Linked DNA regions of Homo sapiens: regions 2, 3, 4, 5, 6 and 7 are each reported to be linked to region 1. The links are microRNA targets in miRTarBase. Many come from high-throughput screens and were not tested one by one. Region 1 holds a microRNA gene; each other region holds the end of a gene's coding sequence.

The links. The annotated mature microRNA hsa-miR-101-3p reads UACAGUACUGUGAUAACUGAA and lies in region 1 at 2,036-2,056, shown strand. An mRNA with a match to its seed (bases 2 to 7 or 8) in the 3' UTR can be bound and repressed. Matches are read on the target gene's strand: a 7mer-m8 pairs with bases 2 to 8, a 7mer-A1 pairs with bases 2 to 7 and ends in A, and an 8mer does both.
Region 2: miRTarBase lists MYO9A as a target of hsa-miR-101-3p. The part of its 3' UTR that is shown has no 7-base or 8-base seed match.
Region 3: the mRNA of PRDM16 is a reported target of hsa-miR-101-3p. Seed matches in the 3' UTR shown: 7mer-A1 at 1,854-1,860.
Region 4: miRTarBase lists GMEB2 as a target of hsa-miR-101-3p. The part of its 3' UTR that is shown has no 7-base or 8-base seed match.
Region 5: miRTarBase lists TSPAN12 as a target of hsa-miR-101-3p. Seed matches in the 3' UTR shown: 7mer-A1 at 1,459-1,465.
Region 6: the mRNA of RANBP9 is a reported target of hsa-miR-101-3p. Seed matches in the 3' UTR shown: 8mer at 2,279-2,286.
Region 7: miRTarBase lists NANOGNB as a target of hsa-miR-101-3p. Seed matches in the 3' UTR shown: 7mer-A1 at 549-555.

The regions. Positions count from the first base shown.
Region 1 is chr9:4,848,310-4,851,424 of GRCh38, forward strand. It overlaps MIR101-2 (microRNA 101-2), which reads left to right and starts at 1,988; the gene lies at 1,988-2,066. RCL1 (RNA terminal phosphate cyclase like 1) reads left to right here. Exons shown (of 9, transcript NM_005772.5): 8 at 1,138-1,241. It overlaps LOC124902113 (a long non-coding RNA gene), which reads left to right and starts at 2,058. Exons shown (of 2, transcript XR_007061402.1): 1 at 2,058-3,115.
Region 2 is chr15:71,823,938-71,827,052 of GRCh38, forward strand. MYO9A (myosin IXA) reads right to left here. Exons shown (of 42, transcript NM_006901.4): 42 at 1-3,106. The coding sequence ends at 2,643. Among named protein-coding and RNA genes, the nearest start is that of NR2E3, 15 kb to the left of the region's middle.
Region 3 is chr1:3,433,301-3,436,300 of GRCh38, reverse strand. PRDM16 (PR/SET domain 16) reads right to left here. Exons shown (of 17, transcript NM_022114.4): 17 at 1-2,624. The coding sequence ends at 2,490. Among named protein-coding and RNA genes, the nearest start is that of ARHGEF16, 20 kb to the left of the region's middle. RefSeq lists an enhancer at 2,341-2,850.
Region 4 is chr20:63,587,402-63,590,516 of GRCh38, reverse strand. It overlaps GMEB2 (glucocorticoid modulatory element binding protein 2), which reads left to right. Exons shown (of 10, transcript NM_012384.5): 10 at 1-2,912. The coding sequence ends at 428. Among named protein-coding and RNA genes, the nearest start is that of HELZ2, 15 kb to the right of the region's middle. RefSeq lists enhancers at 20-189, 2,107-2,276, 2,870-3,039 and a cis regulatory region at 2,954.
Region 5 is chr7:120,785,938-120,788,937 of GRCh38, forward strand. TSPAN12 (tetraspanin 12) reads right to left here. Exons shown (of 8, transcript NM_012338.4): 8 at 1,383-2,960. The coding sequence ends at 2,655. Among named protein-coding and RNA genes, the nearest start is that of TSPAN12, 71 kb to the right of the region's middle.
Region 6 is chr6:13,619,570-13,622,684 of GRCh38, forward strand. It overlaps RANBP9 (RAN binding protein 9), which reads right to left. Exons shown (of 14, transcript NM_005493.3): 14 at 1,929-2,923. The coding sequence ends at 2,793. NOL7 (nucleolar protein 7) reads left to right here. Exons shown (of 8, transcript NM_016167.5): 6 at 639-760; 7 at 839-916; 8 at 1,185-2,143. The coding sequence ends at 1,258. Among named protein-coding and RNA genes, the nearest start is that of NOL7, 5.8 kb to the left of the region's middle.
Region 7 is chr12:7,773,505-7,776,619 of GRCh38, forward strand. NANOGNB (NANOG neighbor homeobox) reads left to right here. Exons shown (of 4, transcript NM_001145465.1): 4 at 296-617. The coding sequence ends at 347. Among named protein-coding and RNA genes, the nearest start is that of NANOGNB, 9.8 kb to the left of the region's middle.

The DNA of each region.
Region 1 (3,115 bases):
TTTCATAAAGGCTAGCAGTAAGATCAATCCTTATTTCCTTCACCATTATTAGGGCTACTAAATGATATCTGACAGCCAGAGAATTTCAGAGTGTCTGTATCTGAAAATGGATTTATTTCCTACCCTACATGCCTTAAAAAGGAGGCAGGGGCAGTTGTAGCCATATGAACCACACTGCTGGCCACCTATCCTGTTCAGTCTAGCCTTGGATAGTAACGTGCCTTGGTCAGACTGGATTTCTAATTTTGACCTGTGCAAAATATGTAGAAATTCAAGGTCATCCTTCTTTGACTATGTACAATATGTTTTAAAGTTATTCCAGAAAGAATGATCAGAAAGCGTGTTTGTATGCTTATGTATGCGTCTAGTGGAGGCAAAACAGTTAAAATGGCTGAGAAAATGAAAAACAAAAGAAGAAAGGCAACCTAAGCAGTTGTACCTCAGGAGAAAGTGTTTGAAGAGAAGTCTGTTCTGCTTGTTAATTTGGAAGAAAGGGAAGGAAAAGGGGGTGGAAGGCATAATTTTATACATAAGTAGTAAGAATAAAGGGATCTAACCTTAACAAGTCTTCAGTTTTAAGGAACTCAGGAAGAGATAAAGGAGAGAAGTTAATAGAGTATGGCAAGCAGTTTCCTGAATGTATTTGAATAAGTGTAAAAGTAAGGCCATGAAAAGGCCGTTTCATGTCAGATAGACTGTGTTGTTCTGTGACAGATTCAATAAATATGAGCGTCATCCACTTAACCCTTGGAATTAACTCTACATCTTCTAGAACTGATTAAGATTTTTTTTTTTTTGCATATACTCAATAAAGATGATGTCCTCCTGCTGCTGCTTTAATGATAAAGGGAAAGTTTCATTTTTTTTTTTTTTTACTAGATTCACTTAAGAAGATTTGAATCTGATAGTCTCATTCTGATAGTCTCAACTATTACAGTTGCTCTAATTAACTGTTAGTTTAACCCTCTACAGTTAGTTGATACAATGATTACTCTTATAAGACCTGTATTCTGTTTTATTGTTGCTTGAACTTTGGATTTTGATATTATGAGTGTATGTTTCTGGTTTTTTTTTTCCTCCTCTCTTTTGTTGGCTTTCCATTTTCTGGTTTGTACAATTATTAATTTGTGTTTACAGGGTGGATGCGTAGACTCGACCAACCAAAGCCTGGCGCTACTACTCATGACCCTTGGACAGCAGGATGTTTCCAAAGTCCTGCTAGGCCCTCTCTCTCCCTACACGTAAGTTATTCTTTTTCAACCTCGTTATTCTGTCCAGTGTAATTTTCTCATTGCCCAAAATGACAAAGGGTGTTGTGCTGCACAGAGCCTGCACTATGAACACCTGCTTGTGTTTATCCTCAAATCAGCCAGCAGTTGTCACTCTTAACCTGGTGTTTATTTTTACATACAAGGATTTTTGCATTTCTTTCCTTCCTTAATCCCAGGTAACTGAAATTGCATGATCTCTATTGGGCAGTTATTTTGTTCGTGCTTTAGATTTTGTTTCCAGGTTAGAGGTAAACTCCTGGTTTGGTGTAGCTTGGATTTTATTACTAGTTTTTTTTTAATCATTCTTTTCCTTAGCTGTCTAACTTGCTGTGGGAAAACAGGCTTTTTGTCTAAGATGATAGGATATGAGCTCACTGGGAAAGATGACAAAAGACAGAGTTTGTATTAATGCTACTGGACTAGTAGGGAATTGTAGAAGTGAGTTTGGATTGTTGAATGTTAGCAGAAGTTGACTGCTGTGGTGTAAAAGCAAGCACTCTTCAAAAAGAACAGTGTCAGAAGACTTGAATTATAAATGACACTGTGAAAGAAGCATTTCCTATTGATAGTAAATGAGGTTGCGGAAAACAGCCTATTTGAGTACTGACATTGTGTGTGTGTGTTTTCACGTGCTTGCATACTTGGAGATCATCATATGGCCCATCTGAGGTTGGTGAGCTGGGTGGCAGGGAATATTCAGGTAGATATGAGACTGAACTGTCCTTTTTCGGTTATCATGGTACCGATGCTGTATATCTGAAAGGTACAGTACTGTGATAACTGAAGAATGGTGGTGCCATCACATTGAGAAAGGGTTGAGGACTGCGGTGGGGCTATGCACCCTTGGGCCATGGCGTTGGGGGCATGAAAACCAGGAGCTTGAAATAAATTCTTATGGAGGCTTTTTTTTTTCTTTTTTTTTTTTTTTTTGGAATTCGTGGTGGGAGGTTTTTTTAGAACAGGAAAATGGAAGAGAATACATTCTGTTAGCAGAGAGGGAAGACTGATAAGCAGGAAACTGGTAAGGACCACATTATCTCCTGATAGCTTGTGTAAAAGTATTTCGTAGGACAGGATACCTAAAATTGAGTAATCCTAAATGGCGTGGTAACATCAGTAGTAAACAATGCTAAAATAGACTTGGTAGTTAAGTACTTGGAGAGGAGATGAGGGCTGGAAGAATGGCACCCTAGGTACAGAGACTCGCTTCCTGTAGAGAGCTCACTGGAGGCGGCTGCCAGCTGTGTGGCCACTGTGGCCCCACCGGCTTTGTAGCTGGGCTCGTAGCTGCCGTTTCCCAGCCCTTGCTTCAGGCCTGGGGAAGTCCTGCTTGCACACACGGTATGAGGTATGGGGTGTTGTCTTGAATGTGTGTGGTCCTGGGGCATGGGGTTTGGCAGAACATTCTGTGAAAATGGAATACATATATGTTTTTTTTCGTGACACTTTTTTTCTTTTGCTTTTGGAGATTTTTCAATTTGGCTCCAGGACCTGTATGATGTTTTCAAGCTTTGCAGAGATGCTCAAGATATGACTGGACATTTTTGAAAGTTCCTGTGTCCTCTTCAACACATCTTCTCACCAAACATTAATTGTAGTGTCTTTTCTTCCAGAAAACTTGCATAAAATGACTTCCTCTCCTGTGAAAACAGTGTCCTGCTCTGAATGGAGCTTTAAAGGAGTAGCACAAATTGTAAGATGATGTATCTTGAGGCTGGGGCTTAGAGATATTCTGCTGCCTCCCAGAGCTTTGTGCAGACGGGTCTGCCAGGGTGGGAAAGGGAAGCCTCCGTTCTTTTTGGTAAGCTAGCATAAAGACAGGTAAGGGAGTCTATTTTCAAGAA
Region 2 (3,115 bases), not on the chromosome of region 1:
CTTTACCATGCAGAGGGCCAGTGAGAACAGATGGATGCAGACACAGCGTTTGGTTCTGAAGGTTTTTAAGAGTTATGGCTTCATCTCTTGATCAGGCCAACAAGGCCTACTACCCTATGTAAACAACGGCTTTCCCTCAAAGGGAGGGCCCCACACTGCTCTCCACTCTTATCATTTTGTGGCTCTCTCCTCCTCACCCACCCACCCCAATCCTGGCAGATTAAATTACTAGAAATCCACAAATCTAGCAACTGAAAAAACAAGTTTTTTTAATTGAATTTTATCCAAACTGGAGTTTCAGGTCCCTGAGAAAAATTATAAAGTCTCTTAACATCCATCACCTAGTTCCTTTAAAGTGACCTACATCAGTCGTTTTTTAACTGCCAAAAAACTTATTTTGCCAAAAAAGCCCCACAAAGATTTAGAAGGAAGAACATGTGCCAACATATGTTCTTCTGGCCATTCCTCTGGGCCACAGGAAATTATTCCATAAGGGCAATCTCTTTTTTTCATACAGGATTTAACCAACATTCTGGAGCAAGTGCAGAGTAACAATTAATGCCCAGCAGTACACTACTCTCCCAAGAACACTGAAACACAGACTGTGCAACCTGGCACGGGGCTGAGGAACCAGCAATCCCACTCTAACACACCATGCTGAGGGGTTTTCCTCTATCCTCTAGGAGATTCTCTGAAATTCAGATTTTTAAAAGCTTAACATTATTTATTACTCCTCAGGACAAGATGAACAAGGTGGCAGATGTCTGTGGGATATAAAGCATAACATTTGCTCATTAACTATCATTATTCTGGAGATTTTAATGGCTTCCTTTCTCTGGCTCAATTCTGAACCCAAAGTAGGGAGAGGTAAGACTCCTGCTACCTTTAGCTGCCACTCAGAATTATGCTCCAAGTCTAACCTCTGGGGCTGGCCAATAACCACTGAGGCAGTGGCGTGAGGTTCAGTGTTGTGTAACAGGAGAGAGAGACTCTGCCTTAACAAAAGACTTAATATTTCCACAACTTCAAAGAAGTATGAAAAGGAAGAATACCCAAAATACAGGTTATAGATGGTAAAGGCTCTTTTTCAGAGCAGTGCATGTAGTAGCAAGACAAGATGCATTTAGTAACTTTAAAAATAAACATTTCACATACTTATCTCAAGAAAGGCTATCATGTTTCATTTTTTATATATTATAAATAGCAAAAACAGATTTCTAATCCCACAAATGCTAAGATACTTAAAATGCTATTATAACTCATGTGTATGAAGACCACCCAGTGGTGAAAATGATGTCTTACTAATTCCCTCAACCCAGGGACGAATGGCTCTCATCCCCCTGTCCAGTGGCCCCTCATCTGTGGGAAGAAATTCCATGGGAAGGAGGGAAGCACAAGGTTAAAAAGAAATATGCCTACTATACATACATATTTACAATAAACTTCAGTAACCAGAATATTAACAAAAATAGCTTCAAGTAGTCCTTGATTTTTTTCCATCTATTTAATACTGATAGTCTGAGAAAAGGAAGATAAAAGTTAGTTAGTTAGATAGGTCATATTAAAAACCTTTTTATTTTTTGGCAGCTTTCTGTAACACTTACTTACTTATTCATGCAATATTGTATGTGAATGTTTTTGGAAACTAACTAAACGGTCACATTATTTGTTTGTTTGTTTGAGTCTGAGTCTGTGGTGGGAATCCACCAGCAGATGAACAGGCTCATATGCGGTTTTCGGTTTAATCTATACAAAGAGAAAAGCCTGAATGGCTTAGGATGAAACCTTCATAAGTTTAGGGATCACCATGTCTCTGGGAAACTAAAAAATAATGTAGAAGAATCTGATCCTAGGACCAAGAAACATGAGAACAGTATGGCTACTGACACTTCAGCCCATGCAATGTATTTGGCAGGAACTAAACAGGAGTTAAACCAGCACTGATTACTATGACATCAAACATCATCAAAAAAAATAGGTATTCTCTTCTTCACTGTATAACAAGATATCTGAGACACGCTCTGATGGCTTAATGGAAACAATCACGGTTTTTTTTTGTTTTTTTTTTTTTGTTTTTTTTTTTTGTTTTTGCTTTCCCCAGAATATAACATGGAGTGTTTTTTCAGAAATCTTAAAATAGAGGGATTAGGCTTTTTGTTTGTAAGTAAGTTTTTGGAAAAAAATTATATTCTACCCTAGCTCCTAACTATCCCAAAATAAACCCAAAGGCTTTTGCTTTCACGGTTAAGAAAGATTTATACGTTTTCTTCAAATGTCAGAAATGAGAGGGTCCCTCAGGACAGCAATATCCCCCCTAGTTCAACACCCACCTTTGGGAAGGGAAAAGAGGGTGGGGGAGAGGCAACTACAACTGACCCAAATCCCCAGGCCCTAGGTGGCTTTGTATAGTAAAAATCTCAATTCAAATACAACAGCCAAGGCACAGCTGGCACCATCCCCAGCAGGCTTTCTGCTTCTGCAGGAGGCCCAGGAATTCAGCACATACAGTCTTAGCCATATGCTTAGAAAAGAGGCAGGACCACAATTAGGATTGACTATTGTGGACGAGGTGATGAAACGCAGCCCCAAAGGTGAGATTTGTTTACCACTCTGTAGCCACGGAGGGACACACATCTGCCGGTTCAGACCATAAATTCATTATTTCCAAAGAGTGCTAGCTGTTGGTTGGAGGTGCAGTCTGGGTCCACAGTTTTTCTGCGGCCAGACATGACTGTCCCCTCTGGGGTCTCTTTGGTTTTCTGAGGTGAGTTTTTCACATTCTTTAATTTTTGTTTGCCCTTTTCCGGGTTGAAGGTTCCTCTGCTGATGAACTGAGGCTTGTCTTCCAGGAATTTGGTCTGGCCCAATGGTCCTTCCATTCCCAGGGCCTCATTACCTGAGGCAGCTCGGTAGAATGGAGATTTGGAATAAATCTGAAATAGTTTTCTGGTCCCATGAGATGATGCCGTGTTAGACAGACATAAAGAGGAGACCGAAGAGTCCACGACATCTAAAGAGTCTTGCTGCTTTTTAAGTTGCTTTCGCAACTTGCTGGAAGGTTCAGACTTGCCAGCTGTCTTCAGGGAGCTAAGGGCTAAGCTTCTTTCTAATGCAA
Region 3 (3,000 bases), not on the chromosome of region 1:
GCTCTCATCGGTTCTGCTCCTGCTGAAAAGACACGCTGAGGGCTCCATCCGTCCGAATGTCCCACTTCAGAGAGACGGGGTCATATTGCAAAAAAAAAAAAGCACACACCTTACTCTTTCGCAGAAGAAACCATATAATTTGGGTTTACAGAAATGGGGTGTTTATGTCTGAGGTTGAATTTTTATAAGAATCCCATCTAGATCAAGGGAAACTGGAAATTCCTACGGGGTACCTGGTGGGTCTGACCCAGGGGATGTTGTGGAAACGCGTGAGAAGGCCTGAGCAGTTGTGTTTGCAGATCCTGGATCCTTCCCGACACGCCAGCTGGCTCTTCTGCAGGCAGCTCCCCCGCTGCCCCGGCGGGGCCACCCCATGGCCCCAGCGCACGCACAGGTGGGTCCTGTCTTGCCTCGTTGTGCAGATCTGGCGTGGGAGGAATCCCTTTCACTGTGATCCGTCGGGTTGAGCCTCCTGCAGGAGCCTCCCCGTGGCACGTCTTCAGTGCAAGCCTGGACCACCCGGCACCCACAGAGACGATTGTCTTTTGTCCTGGAGCAGCCAGGACACCTCCCGTCACCGCTGGGGACAGCCTGAGGAGATGTCCACGCGTGACACAAAGCCTGAGGAGATGTCCACACGTGACACAAACCCACACCAAGGCGGCTTGCACCACTCCTGTTTGTATTTACGCTCTTTTTTTTTAAAGGGCAACTTGGGCATTTTTTTTCTCTTCTTTTTGGGACTCTATCATCATTTTTTCTTCCAAACAATACAAGAAATAAATAGAACACTTGTCTTAAATGCAAATGTAACTGAAACGCAAATTTAACAAAAACATATGATTGTCTGGTAAACGGCAGCAGGGACAGCAGGATTCATGGGGGGGACGGGGGTATTTGGCACATAAAAAATCGCCCCACTCCCACACGACACACAACCTTATCACACGGTTTTGGTCCTTCACCAGATACTTATATTAACATTATTTCTTCACAATAAGAATGTCTAATGCCAAAAATACTGTTAAGGAGGAAATAAAATAAGAAAAGAAATGAATTAGAAAAAATTACAAGTTATATACAGATTAAGGTAAATTCCATCAGGGAAAAAAATTATTATTTGAAATTGGCCCCTATGGGAATAATTTAAAGCCCATCCGAGTGGGGAAGAAGTTGCGTCCCAAGAGAGGGAGGCGGCTGGGCCCGGGGGGCTGTGCTGTCTCTGCTCCTTGCGGCAGGTTCCCCCGACGCCCTTCTGTTCTCAAGCTGTGTCTCGCCAAGAACCCGCAGGAAGAGCGACGTGACGACTGTGTCGTCCATCCGGAGTCTCAGGCACAGGTGCGGCTTGGTGGCCCGGAGCGATCCGCTGGGATTGCTCCCCAGGGCAGCCACGTGGAGGACACCGGAGCCGCTGGGGTCAGGTGGGAGGTGGGAGACCCAGGACGTGGCCAAGGCCCTGCCTTCAGAGGACGGCGCTGGGTTCCCGCGTGGGGTGGCCGAGGCAGGGACAGAGGAGGGAAGGAAGATGGGTGCCCGGCCACATCTCTGCATGGCGGATCCAAGCCACAGGCCCTCGACTTCCCCATATAATTGAGGGATCTTGGGTGGGGACCTGTGGATTCCTCTGAAGGCCACGTGGCGGTCCTGACACCAATTCCATGTCACACGAGGGCAGGCACACTTCCCATCCCAGCCTCGGGCAGGCCTGCAGCCCAGGGCGCCCTGCCTAAGACTTCTTCGGCCGTCTGCATGGTTCACGGGTGTGGCCCCGCGCCTCTTGTTCTGCCTCGGGGCACCCAGCATCACCTTGGCTTATACAAATAGGGACAGAGATAGAAAATTTCTCCATTATCTACAGTATAAAGAATACACCCAGGCACAGTGCGGGTTCCCAGGCAGACTCGGGTTTGCAAATGAGCTCAAATTTCAAAGCAATGCAAAATTACTTTTAAAAAACAATTTGCAAGTCATTTTTTGATTTTTAAAAAATACTGTCTATTTTTAAAACCACATGCTTAAATAGACTCTGCAGTCAATACGGTTACCAAAAGGGTTATTCTTGTCATTTCATTATAAAAATCATTTGAGTGATCTCTCTCTTTTGAGCACACCAGTCTATCCATTCCCTTCCGCGACCCCACGCGGGCACCCGGCAGTGGCCACCAGCTTCTGTCTCAGCAGAGCGTCCACCTGCCCACTGGCTGATTCTGCGAGGCAGCTCCGTTGGCTGTCTTTGGACGGCCACCTGCATGGCCGTCACTGAACAGTGTTCTCAAGACCAATCCTTGGAGATGGTGAGACTCTACGACTGCTTTAGGGACTTTTGGGATCTGAGTTTCCATTGGAAAAGTCGGAATGAACCATGGTGGGTGGGGAGGATGCTGAGGAGTGGCCACACGCAGGGACAGGGTTCTCCGGGGCCCCGCCCGCCTCCGTCCTTCGTGGCTGGTGCCCTCGCTCTGGCCACCGGCCCCCGGCTGCCCAGCCCGTCAGAGGTGGTTGATGGGGTGAAATGCTCCAGACTCCGACGTGGCTCCAGTGACCTTCAACCAAGCGTCCAGAGAACCCTGGGAGGGGGTGTGGAGAGGAGTGTCTTCGGAAAGGGACAGCATCATTGCATATGCCTGGCGGGGAGGGGATGACACACACACAGGACAGGCAGGTGAGCGCGTGGGCAGGGCGGGCCATCCCAGACAGGCAGGTGAGCGCGTGGGCAGGGCGGGCCATCCCAGACAGGCAGGTGAGCGCGTGGGCAGGGCGGGCCATCCCAGACAGGCAGGTGAGCGCGTGGGCAGGGCGGGCCATCCCAGACAGGCAGCAGATGGGCAGGGCAGGCCATCCTGGACAGGCAGGTGAGTGTGTGGGCAGGACAGGCCATCCCCGGCCAGCAGGGCCAAGCCTCGTCCGTTCCCAGCCTCCCGTGGCCCTGGCCTGGCTCAACCTTGCCCTGGGCCACAGGGGGCAGAAGGAACAAGAGGGACTAAGACCCGGATTCTCCCC
Region 4 (3,115 bases), not on the chromosome of region 1:
CCGTCCCCCAGCTGACCAGCGTGCCCCTTGGTAAAGTGGTGTCCACCCTGCCGTCCACCGTCCTGGGCAAGGGTTCCCTTCAGGCGCCCCCCGCCAGCTCCCCGGCCTCCCCGCTGCTCGGGGGATACACAGTCTTGGCCTCTTCCGGCTCCACCTACCCCAGCACAGTGGAGATCCACCCGGACGCGTCCAGCCTCACGGTCCTGAGCACGGCCGCCGTGCAGGACGGTAGCACGGTGTTCAAGGTGGTCAGCCCGCTACAGCTGCTCACGTTGCCTGGCCTGGGCCCCACCCTGCAGAACGTGGCCCAGGCCTCGCCTGGCTCCAGCACAATTGTGACAGTGCCCGCAGGGGCTGCCCCCGGGCCTGAGGAGCACACGGCCACCATTGAGGTGGCTGCCATGGCAGAGGACCACGAGCGGAAGTAGCCGACAGGAGGGCGAGGCCCCTGGGACGGACAGGGCTGGCTGTCTCTCAGCCGCGGCAGCAGGGAGCGGGCAGAGGCCGCAGGGCTGGCTCGGGCAGGTGGGTCACGTGGTCTGCAGAACCAAAGAGAGGAATCGCCAAAACAAATCACGAGAAGAGAGAAGGGGACAGAACAGCGAGAGCAACCTGGAAAATCGGTCTTCAGGTCCCACGTTTCCTCCCCCTTTTTTCTTGGGAAATATATTTTTCCATCTGTTGCTTATTAATACTGTTTACACATTGGGCCTTGATCAGGAGCCAGGTGGGCGGGGGCTAGGGGGAGCCTGGGTGCAGCAGAGACAGAGGAAGCAGAGCCAGGTGCCGAGCGCGACCCTGCAGGTGCTGGACGCGGTGCAGCAGGTCACGAGGCCCCCATGTCTGCACCCAGCCAGGTCCCTGGGGACGTTACTAACTCATGACTTGGGAGCTAAGCCCAAGTGTGAAACCTCTGGATCCTATGGATTTGGTTTCTTCCCACAGTTTTCTGTAGGTTTAGTGTGGCTGGCGCCCCGTTCTCCTCCAGTTGGGAACATGCACCCGGAGCTTGGGGTGCAGATCCTGATGGGTGCCTGCCTCCCCCGCCCCCAGCCGGTGCTCAGGTGGCCCAGGGGCCGCACAGACGAGGCGTGGTCCAGGCATTGTTGCACATGTACTGAGGGTGTTTTTAAGTGAATTGCTTAGTAGGCTTCTAGGAAGAGTCAGATTTATAGCATTTTCAACCAAAATAATGGTGAGTGCCTAGGCTTCCCGAGTTAGCTCTTTGGGTGGCCCCTGAGCCCCTGTGAGTGCACTTGACCGGGTGCGGAGGTCCTGGGCAGCCTGTCCCTGAGCCGGCCCCTCCCAGGGGTCTGAGATCCATGAGGTGTGTCCCTAGGGCTTCAGTCCTGGGGCAGAGGCATAAACAGAACCAGTCACTATGGAGGTCGAGGATTCCCATGTGGGCCCTTCAGCTTGGGCTGCTTGGCCACGGAACAGCCCTTGGCTCCCTGGCCCCCGGCCCCCATGCAGCCCCTGGGCTGGCCCTTGGTGGTCTCTGTCCAAGGGAGAGCCCCTGGGTGTTCAGGAGGCTGCCCCGGGTGGGCTGCTCAGGGCAGCTGCCGAAGGTGGAGCCCAGAGCCTGTCTGGAAGGGCTGTCTGTGGCTGTCCTGAGACCTGGCCTTGGACTCACAAGGAAGACCAGGCTGAGGCCCCTCCAGGCCAGGGTCCTGGGGCAGGCATCTCAGGGAGCAGCCAGCCCAGGCCTCCTGCCGTCTCCAACAGGGCATGTCCCGGGAGGACCCTGAGTGCCAGATTCCCCTGGACGCTCCTGCTGATTCTGTCGGCAGTTGAAGGCCCGTCTGAGGCCCCGCAATGCGAGGGTCCTGTGTCCCACTTCACTGCTCCGAAGGGAACTGGCTGGCTGTCCGTCCAGTGAGCGGCCCAGACCCCACCTCTGCGCCATTGTCACCAGGGCCCTGTCCTGGCTGCCCTCACCCATGTCAAGCTACTGAGGCTGTGTCTTGTTTGTTTTCTCTGTTACATTTTTGTTTGCTGTTGTCACAGTCAGCTGGTTTCGGCGTGATGTTGATCTTTTGATGTACATACTCCGTTTTAAACTCATTTCCACTCTAGTTGAGTTCTGCAGCATGCAGCGGTATGACCCTACGGGGGTCAGGAGAGCCCTGCGGCCCCCACCCACCAGCTCAGAACCTGTCACTAATACAGCTGCCTGTGACCCTGGGACCCGCAACCTTCCAGCTGCTTCCCTTTGTCAAAGTCACGAGTGCGTCTGCCTTGACAGCCCTCGTCAACAGAACTTCCAGTGGGTTGTGGGTTCATTTCCTTTCTTTTTAAGAACAGGGTTGGGACCTTTTCTGCCCCTGCCCCTTAGCTACTGAGGCATAGGGAGAGGAAGTTAATTTCAGAGCCATACAAAAATAAGCCACAACCAGCTTCAGAATTAATTCCCAATCCCCCATTCCACCAGGGCTGGGAGCCCATTCCCAGTGCTTCCCAAGGCCCTCGGGGACATCTACCGCCAACCCAGCTGCTTCTGGCAGGGGCTCCAAGCCCCAGCGTGGGGAAGGGCCCTGGAGAAGCCCTCATCCTCATGGGAACCACACTGCAGTGGGTGGGGAAGGTTGTTGTCAGCACCGCCCCCGGCTCCTCCAGGTCCTGCTGGCTCCTCGGGGGCAGGGTTCCCTGGACCTCCCAGTTCTGCGCCTTGGGGCCAGCCAGTACTCAGAGAGGAGGACCTTCTCAACCACGTACAGAACACGGGTTTTCATGGCTGCCTTTGGTTTGGTTTTCTGAGAAGATAGGATTGGATTGGATTTTGCAGAGGGTGAGAACTTCTCTGTGCCTGCTCAGAGGCGCCCTAGGGAAGGGCCATGTTTGAGTTTTGCTTTGTATGTTGTTTTGCAAGTATCTGCCTGGTACTTTGATTTAAAATAAAAACAATTTTCATAGTTTGAGTGTCTATCTCTTGGAATGAAGTGTGGAGAGAAATCAAGTCTATAAACACGCCCAACGCAAACAGCGCTGGCTGCCACCCCCGCCCCGGACCACTCACACCCACATGCTTCGTTCTTCCAAGTGTGGCCTGGGGGCTTCAGGACCCTTCCAGGGTGTCCCGAGGTCAAAGCTGTTTTCATCACAGCAGGTGCCCTGT
Region 5 (3,000 bases), not on the chromosome of region 1:
CTCTTCAATCATTCTATGATCTAACCACATTGAACCATAAGTCATAACTCCAAAATAATGTATACTTTTTAACCTCAAACTCATGGCTCATGGAATATTTTCCATGAGCCAGCTAGACTCCACTGCTCCTTCTGATCCAGCTTGAACGCCATCTCCTTGGCATAGCTGCCTTAATTCCACTCTACTCCATCTCTTATTCTTAAGAAGGGCCCCACTCACTGCATATTCCCTTATTTATTTTTCCTGTGGTTAGCACAAGTGTCTCTAACCCAGATTCTACAGTGTTTAAGGACAGACATCATCTCTTGTTGCCATCTCTGAGTCTCCAGGGCACTTTGAATGGACTTTTAACCAGTCTAAAAATAATCTTCTTAAATTTCTACTTTTAAAAAATGGTGATTTTTTTTTTTAACCAAAGAAAGCTTTTAAAAATTCCCAAAGAAACAGTTAACAGTTTTGTTTGCAATGTACCCAAATAGTGAACTCCCTCAGCTCTACTGCATTAAATATACTTTTTTAACTCCCTTGCAGTTTTATTATTCCAGGTGCACTGCTACCATAAGAGGCTTTGTGAGCTACTGCTATAAATGTCATTCATTCCCATTAAGCAAGTGTATTATATACAAAACGATTGTCTAAATTTATGTTGACCATTCTAGAGGGTAGTGTATCAGGTAATACATCAAAATATCTGAGGTCTAAAAATGTAGAAAGCAACTTTTATAATTTGAGGACTTTTTATTTTACTGAGCCCAACATATTATATGCTTGCTCTTGCTGTGACTGTAAGACATATCAAAAAAAGCAGCAGCTAAATTTGACCATTATACAAATAATTCAAACAAAACTCATACATAGCTATCTCAGTTACGTGGGTATTTTAGGTGAAATTACAGGGATTTGGGGTATTGAGGAAGTTATTAAAAGGGATGCTTTTGGCTCTGATTGAACAAGTAATGTACTCAGTTTTCATTAAAATCTATGGAAGATTTTAAACATGGCAGTCAATTTCAAGGATTATATTCCTTAACTCATTTGAAGAGAATTTGAAATTAACTAAGAGACTCATAGTCTCTTAAAAATTAATAAGTTATAAAACTGTGATATGCAAACATTGAAAAGATGAACACAAATGGGCATATTTTTATATTATCTCAAACAAGTATATTATTTAACATTTAGGTAAAAAGCAAAAGTGAAAAATGGGCATCTTTTTGACTCTTCTCAGTGAAAATACATATTCTTATAGGTCCATTCCGGAGTTTGGAAATCAATATTAATACTTTATGCAATCATTCTTTCTCATGTTTTTCTCCCCTTGACAATCTTCTCAAGTGGCATAAGTGCTTGTAATGTATTAAAAAGTAGGCAGAGACAAATCATTACTCTCTAGAAAATATTTATTGACACATTTTAATTTTCTTTCCATATTCTGAGAAATAAACAAAATACACAAAATACAGTAAAATGCACTTTTCCCATTTCAAATAAATATACTATACTCTTGTAAAAAAATTTAATAATCTGTGTAATTTGCCACAGTATATTAATCAGTGAAATAAAACAAAGAATCTCTAAATTGTCACATGTTTTAATGATTCTCACAAGCATTTTTCTGGAGAAAAAGAACACTATTTTCTGTAGAATTTATATTGACTTGGAGACTATTGCTTCTTGTTTGGAGAAGGCAAAGATAAGCTTTTTAAAAAGTGTTTAGTGTCAAAAAGAGTCTTCATTTGGGAGAAAAACAGCATACAAGTCCTTTCTGAATCAACTAAGTTATGTGCAAATTTTCTTATTAATACTTCCTAAAGACCAGACTACATTCTGAATAATGATTCCTATGTATCACACTGGTAATTTTCAAAATTAGTGGTTAAGTATTTAAATAACAGTTATATGTGTAATATAAGCCCAGGACAGAATAGTAAAGCTTTATTAACAGGAAAGGCTAAAAATAATGATGCTATACAGGACAAATTTTCCTTTTCATAATGGTTATTCTTAACATTATCAGAACTGAAATCGACTGAATTATACAGATTTAACACAGACTTATATACAAAAAATCCCTGATCAGCTTAAGACAATGTGTTAGCTTGCTCTTTTAAGTGGTAAGAATATTTTAGTAACCAGCAAAAATCACATTTAGGTAGTCACCAATATTGAAAGTTTTCTGATATATAATTTATTTAGCATCAGAAGAATAGATCGCTGAGTAATAAAAGTTATTAGTATTTTCTAACTTCCTATGTTAGCATTTAATTAGTACTTTATATACTAGTTGGTAGAAGTAAATCAACCTTTACTATGGCTCCAGTCCCACCATATGTGACTCGTTTGCATGGATGCGGAAATGCTAATCAAACCATGCTGCCTCAAAACATAACTGTGTTCAGTAAAAGTCATACACAGGCTACACAGTGGGTATGACATCTGTCTTCAGCATTTTAAGGGCATCAATTATTGTCCAGGTGGTGACTTATGACATGAAACTTTTCCATCCTCATTTTAAAGCATAGAATAGTATATGCTTAGGTGTTATTTTATGGCAACATTTTTATTTCTACATATTTCTGAAACACATAGTATGTACTCAAAAATTCACAAGTCCAGTAAAACAAGTTTGTGGTTTTCTTCTGTGACATTTCTTTTTATAACTCCTCCATCTCAAAGTGTGTATTAAAGCTGTTTGCCATGGATGTGTGTTCAAAGATTCTTGACAGGCTTGGTTTCAACAGTTCTACTGAGGGACATGACAGGTGCTGAGAGTTGTCATTCTTCAAGGACATCATTTGGTCTGTCCCCGGCTCCCTTCTATCATAATACAGAGCCCAGAGCAGAGTAATGGTGAGAATCATGGCCAGGATTTGTGTCACCCCAATGGAGATTCCCAGAAACCTCAGCACCTGCAGTTGTTTGGTTCCTCTCAAAAAGGAATACATTTTCTTCCCACAACCCTGTAAAAGAAATACATGGTCAACATTACTTTAGATATGT
Region 6 (3,115 bases), not on the chromosome of region 1:
TTGGAAATCATGCTGTCAATTCTCTTTTACTACATGTATCCGAACAATTTCCTGTTAACTAATGTTTTGACTTTTGGTTTTAGTATATTTTAGTACAAAAGTCCAGGAACAAGTTCTTCAGTTGGATCTATCTGAGATGCTGATTGTTCAACTGATGAACAAAACCACCATGTGCTCTACTAAAATATGAGTGTCTGTTTCTTGTAGTCCTTGTAATTTAGTTTTATCCTATCTGTGCATATATAAAATTAGTTTCATTTATCACTATGAGACAAATGATAAAAATATTTTAAAGTAAGCATGTAGCCTGGGCACGGTGGCTCATGCCTGTAATCCCAGCACTTTGGGAGGCCGAGGCTGGTGGATCACAAGGTCAGGAGTTCGAGACCAGCCTGGCCAACATGGTGAAACCCCGTCTCTACTGAAAATAAAAAAATTAGCTGGGCATGGTGGCAGGCACCTGTAATCCCACTATTCAGGAGGCTGAGGCAGGCAAGTTGCTTGAACCTGGGAGGCAGAAGTTGCAGTGAGCTGAGATCGCGCAGCCTGGGTGACAGAGCGAGACTCTGTCTCAGGAAGAAAAAAAAAAGAAAGTAAGCATGTGTAATTCTTATTTAACCTTTTATATTGATCAACAGCCAGAATAAAAGCTACTTGGCCGTAAGGCTAAAAGACCAAGATCTGAGAGATTCAAGGCAACAAGCAGCACAAGCCTTCATACATAATTCATTATATGGGCCAGGAACCAACAGGACTACTGGTAATTTTTTTATGGACTATTTTTCTCACTTTTTACTGCAAATAAAACTGTGAAATGATAAATACCTTTCTTTTCTAGTAAATAAGTTCCTGTCTCTTGCCAACAAGAGGTTACCAGTGAAAAGAGCTGCTGTCCAGTTTTTGAATAATGCTTGGGGTAAGATCCAGCTTTATTCTCCTGTCTCTAATAGCTTTATATGTTGAATAATGTTCTTTTGAAGGAGATAGTTCATAATTATACTTTTCCCCCTTATAATGGCTTATATATTAAGTTACTTGTGAAAAACAGGTCAATGTAGTATGTATATACATCTAAAGTATAATAAGCCCACCCAGTTTTAGTAATTACATTCATATAGAGTAATTAAAAAAATTTTGAATTATGTTTTTCTAATATACTTACTGCAGAAAACTTTATATTCTAGGAATCCAAAAAAAACAAAATGCCAAGAGGTTTAAAAGACGGTGGATGGTCAGAAAGATGAAAACTAAGAAGTAAATCAATGCTAAATGAAGAATCTGTACTTTGTATGTATAGAATTTATCTAATAAATCATTCATAGATCATTTTAAAGGATCATTATAAAAATCATAAACCTATTTGAGGAAGTGCTCAACCACATTTCATTCTTCTGGAGTAGAACTGTGCCTTGCAATCCTAGAGGAAAAAGTGGTTTAAGAAGGAATTGTTTTCTTTTTAATATATTTAACTGAATTCAAGCCATACCCACATCAGCAACAGCACCTCTTCTACTCTCCCCGGGTTAGAGGGGTGGCAAAAATGGCACGGACTAAAAGGAGAAATGGATATTCCAGCAAAGTCTCTAACTGCAGCCTGTAGACAATTTGCTATTAAAGATTCAGTGCACAAAATATAGCTAACAGCTTTTAAATTTTTACTTTTAACCAGTCTGGGGATTTGCTTGCCTGGTGAGTCTCATATGCCATATTATGAATATGAAAATAATGAAGTTAATTTCCTGTTGCCTTTCTGTGTCAGCCACAATATCAGGTCTAACCCTAATCCAGGGATGCCAGTAAACTGAAGGCAATTTTAGGTTGTAGAACTCAGATTAATTGTAGAAACCATTAATTTTAATTGCTCTAATTTTCATAGTAATCATAAAAAGTATGCAAGTACCTAATATATAAACTCAATTGACACTGTATCTGTAGAAGTAAATTTTTAATGGCTGGTTAATTATATCACTACATTTTATTGCAATATAGTACTCATTTAAGCACTTAAAAATGGAAGGTGTACAAAGATTAAATTAAGACACGGTAAATTGACTAAATATTTGGTTTTTATATAAATAAAGGTCATAACCACACCGTTGACATGTAATACTGTTATAATACAACAGTTAAACTTGTGAGTCTACAACAGAAGTCATCTGTAGTTAAACAGGAAACAAAGTTGAAAAAGACCATGTTAAAACAAAACTACTGGGACTAACAGGTCGGGATTGTAAGTAGCAACAAACATATTCACTCAGCTCCTGAGTATTTCAAGTTTTACAGTACACATTAAAAATGATTTCTTCCATCAACACTATAAATTCAAACTGTCGGATGTTTATGCATTTTGCAAGTTACACTGATTGAATGCTTATATGGGAGTGGGGGTCGGAACATCTCCCAATTTGAAGTTTACATCACCCACATGCTAACACAAACACAACTTGTTCCATTTCCTTCCCCTCTCTCCCCCCTCCCCCACAAAGAAGGCAGGATTTTTGGTTTCTTTTAGGTAATTGTTTTAAAGGATTTGTGATGATCAATTTGAACGTCTGAAATTCAGTAATATTTAACTCTTAGACAACTAAGAGGTTAAAGATGGAAAATAATTTCTCCTAACACTAAGTTAGAAAATCATTTGCATCATGCTGTAAACTAGGAAGCAATGTAAAGCGACAAAAACCTGTCCCCAGTACATAATTTAAAAAATCTAAATTTCAAATCAGCAGAGCTGGTCTACTTCCATGTTGACTATATGCCACAATATAAGTGTGAGCTCTTGAAATGCATAGCTAATGTAGGTAGTCTTCCACTGTGGCAAATGCGCAGGATCCAATTCCTGATCGAGCCATCAGTCCTAGACATTGTGTGGCCTGTCCCATTGCTAGGGCAAGTGGAGGTTGCTTTGGCAGATTGTGGGTTTCTGAGGAAAAATAATTTAAAAATGAGAACAGCAATTAGCAAGACATTTTAAAAAACATTTCAATCAGGAGAATACTGCAATGACTTTAAAAACTACCACTCCCATACCACTCTGAAATATCAGCAAATGAAGGTTTCTAAGCAAAAGACAGATGCCGCCTTGGACATACTATTCTGACAAGGTAGTGTGGGT
Region 7 (3,115 bases), not on the chromosome of region 1:
AGCCTGACTAACATGGTGAAACTCCATCTCTACTAAAAATACAAAAAAAAAAAAAAAAAAAAAAAAAAAAAAAAAGCCAGGCTTGGTGGCAGGTGCCTGTAATCCCAGCTACTCGGGAGGCTGAGGCAGGAGAATTGCTTGACCTGGGAGATGGAGGTTGCAGTCAGCCGAGATTGTGCCATTGCACTCCAGCTTGGGTGACAAGAGTGAAACTCCATCTCAAAAAAAAATTTAAAATAAATAAATATATAGACTGTGTTGCGAAACTCTTTTTTTTTTTTTTTTTTTTAAACAGATGGAGATCTCTGTGTTGCCAAGGCTGGTCTCGAACTCCTGCCCTCAAGTGATCTTCCTATTTTGGCCTCCAGAAATGCTGTGATTACAAGCATGAGCCATCGCACTGGCTAAGACATTTTACATGACACCATTCTCACCAATAAATGGAGTTCTGAAAGGATAAACAAGAAAACATTAACAGTCGTTGATTCCGTGGAGTAGAACTAAATGAGGGGTATGCAAAGGAGTTTTTATGTGTTTTATTTTTACCCTACTGTAGATTTAAAGTTTTTATAATGGATGTTAATTGATTTTATTTAAGAAAAAAAATCGAGTCAAGGCCGGGCACAGTGGAGCACGCCTGTAATCCCAGCACTTTGGGAAGCCAAGACGGGTGGGTTACCTGAGGTCAGGAGTTCGAGACCAGCCTGACTAACATGATGAAACCCTGTCTCTACTAAATACAAAAAAATTAGCCGGGCGTGGTGGTGTATGCCTGTAATCCAAGCTACTTGGGAGGCTGAGACAGGAGAATCGCTTGTACCTGGGAAGTGGAGGTTGCAGTGAGTCAAGGTCGCACAATTGCATTCCAGTCTGGGCAACATGAGCGAAACTCTGTCTCAAAAAAAAAAAAAAGAAAAAGAAAATAAAAAAATCAATGAAGAAATTACCAACCTGTGGAAATGTTTTGAGACTGAAAGGGAAATCCATTATAGAAGCTAACGGGTTCAGTGCCTTCTGCAATTTGTCAATATATTTCTAAACATCCCCTCCAAACATGACTTTTCTCTACAAATGTGATTATACTCCTGGAAGGGCAATTTGTTGTTGTTGTTGTTTTTGTGATAGGATCTTGCTCTGTTGCCCAGGCTGGAGTGCAGTGGTGCAGTCTCGGCTCACGCAACCTCTGCCTGGGTTAAAGTGATTCTCCTGCCTCAGCCTCCCAAGTAGCTGGGATTATAGGCGTGAGCTACAGTGCCCAGGCAAGGGTGACTGTTTTCTGATGTGTGACTTGAGTCAGAGGACTAAGGTCATTTAGATTTTTTTTCTTTTTGAGATGGAGTTTCCCTCTTGTTGCCCAGACTGGAGTGCAATGGTGCGATCTTGGCTCACCACAGCCTCCGCCTCCCGGGTTCAAGTGATTCTCCTGCCTCAGCCTCCGGAGTAGCTGGGATTACAGGCATGCGCCACCACGCCTGGCTACTTTTGTATTTTTAGTAGAGACAGGGTTTCTCCATGTTGGTCAGGCTGGTCTCGAACTCCTGACCTCAGGTGATCTGCCTGCCTCGGCCTCCCAAAGTGCTGGGATTACAGGCATAAGCCACCACGCCTGGACCAATCTTTGTATTTTTTGTAGAGACTGGGTTTCATCATGTTGCCCAGGCTGATCTTGAACACCTGGACTCTACCAATTGTCTCACCTCTGCCTCACAAACTGTTGGAATTATAGGCATGGGCCACTGTGCCCGGCTTCTAATATTCTTTAAATGCTTTTCACCTTAAACTAATTTTGTTGTTTATTATTAAGAACACTGATATACTCTGCATAGCTTGCCATCACACTTAGGATAAAATTATGATTCCTGACTATGGCCTGTAAAAACCTAAAAGATCTGGTCCCTGCTAAAGTCTCCAATCTCATCTGACCACATTCCCTGACTTGCTCGTTACACGCCAAACACACCTTCTTTTGTTTCTCAGAGACAGTAAGTTTCTTACCATCTCCAGACTTATGCTCTTGCTGTTCCCACAGCTTACAATGGTCTGCTTGCAGATTTGAGAGTGGCTGCCTCCTTTGCAACATTCAGATCTCACTTCTAATGTCACCTATTCAAAAATGTTTTCTGTGACTACCTATCTGAAGTAGCCCTACACATACTCAGTCATCTGGTCATATTATTTATTTTTATTTACTTTATAGCACTCAGCATCATCTAAAATTACTATATTTATATATTGCTTCATCTCTCTACCCCCACCATAATGAGAGCTCTCTTAGTGTTGGAAACTTGTTGATCTCATTCATTGTCATAATCACATGTATTTCAACTAGTTTCTGATATACAGTAGGTACTCAATAAATATTATTGAATAAATATGGAATAAAAATTTATTGGCCTGGCGCTGTGGCTCATGCCTGTAATCCTAGCACTTTGGGAGGCTGAGGCCGGTGGATCACTTGAAGTCAGGAGTTCAAAACCAGCCTGGCCAACATGGTGAAACCCAATCTCTACTAAAAATTCAAAAAAATTAGCCAAGCATGGTGGCAGGCGCCTATAGTCCCAGCTACTTGGGAGGCTGAGGCAGGAGAATCGCTTGAACCCAGGAGGCAGAGGTTGCAGTAAGCTGAGATGGCACCACTGCAATCCAGCCTGGGTGACACAGCAAAACTCCATCTCAAAATAAATAAATAAACAAATGAATTAATTAAATTAAAATAAAGTGTATAAGTTAGTAGGGTTTGATACATTATTTCATGGGGAATTTAATATTTTTCTTTTTTTTTGAGATGGAGTTTCCCTCTTGTTGCTCAGGCTGGAGTGCAATGGTGTGATCTCAGCTCTCTGCACCCTCCGCCTCCCAGGTTCATGCAATTCTCCTGCCTCAACCTCCCCAGTAGCTGGGATTACAGGCATATGCCACCATGCCTGGCTAATTCTATATTTTTAGTAGAGATGAAGTTTCTCTGTGTTGGTCAGGCTGGTCTCGAACTCCCAACCTCAGGTGAGCCACCACGCCTCACCAATATTGTATTTTTAGTAGAGATGGTGTTTTACCATGTTGGCCAAGCTGGTCTCCAACTCCTGACCTCAGGTGATCCGCCCACCTCAGCCTCCCA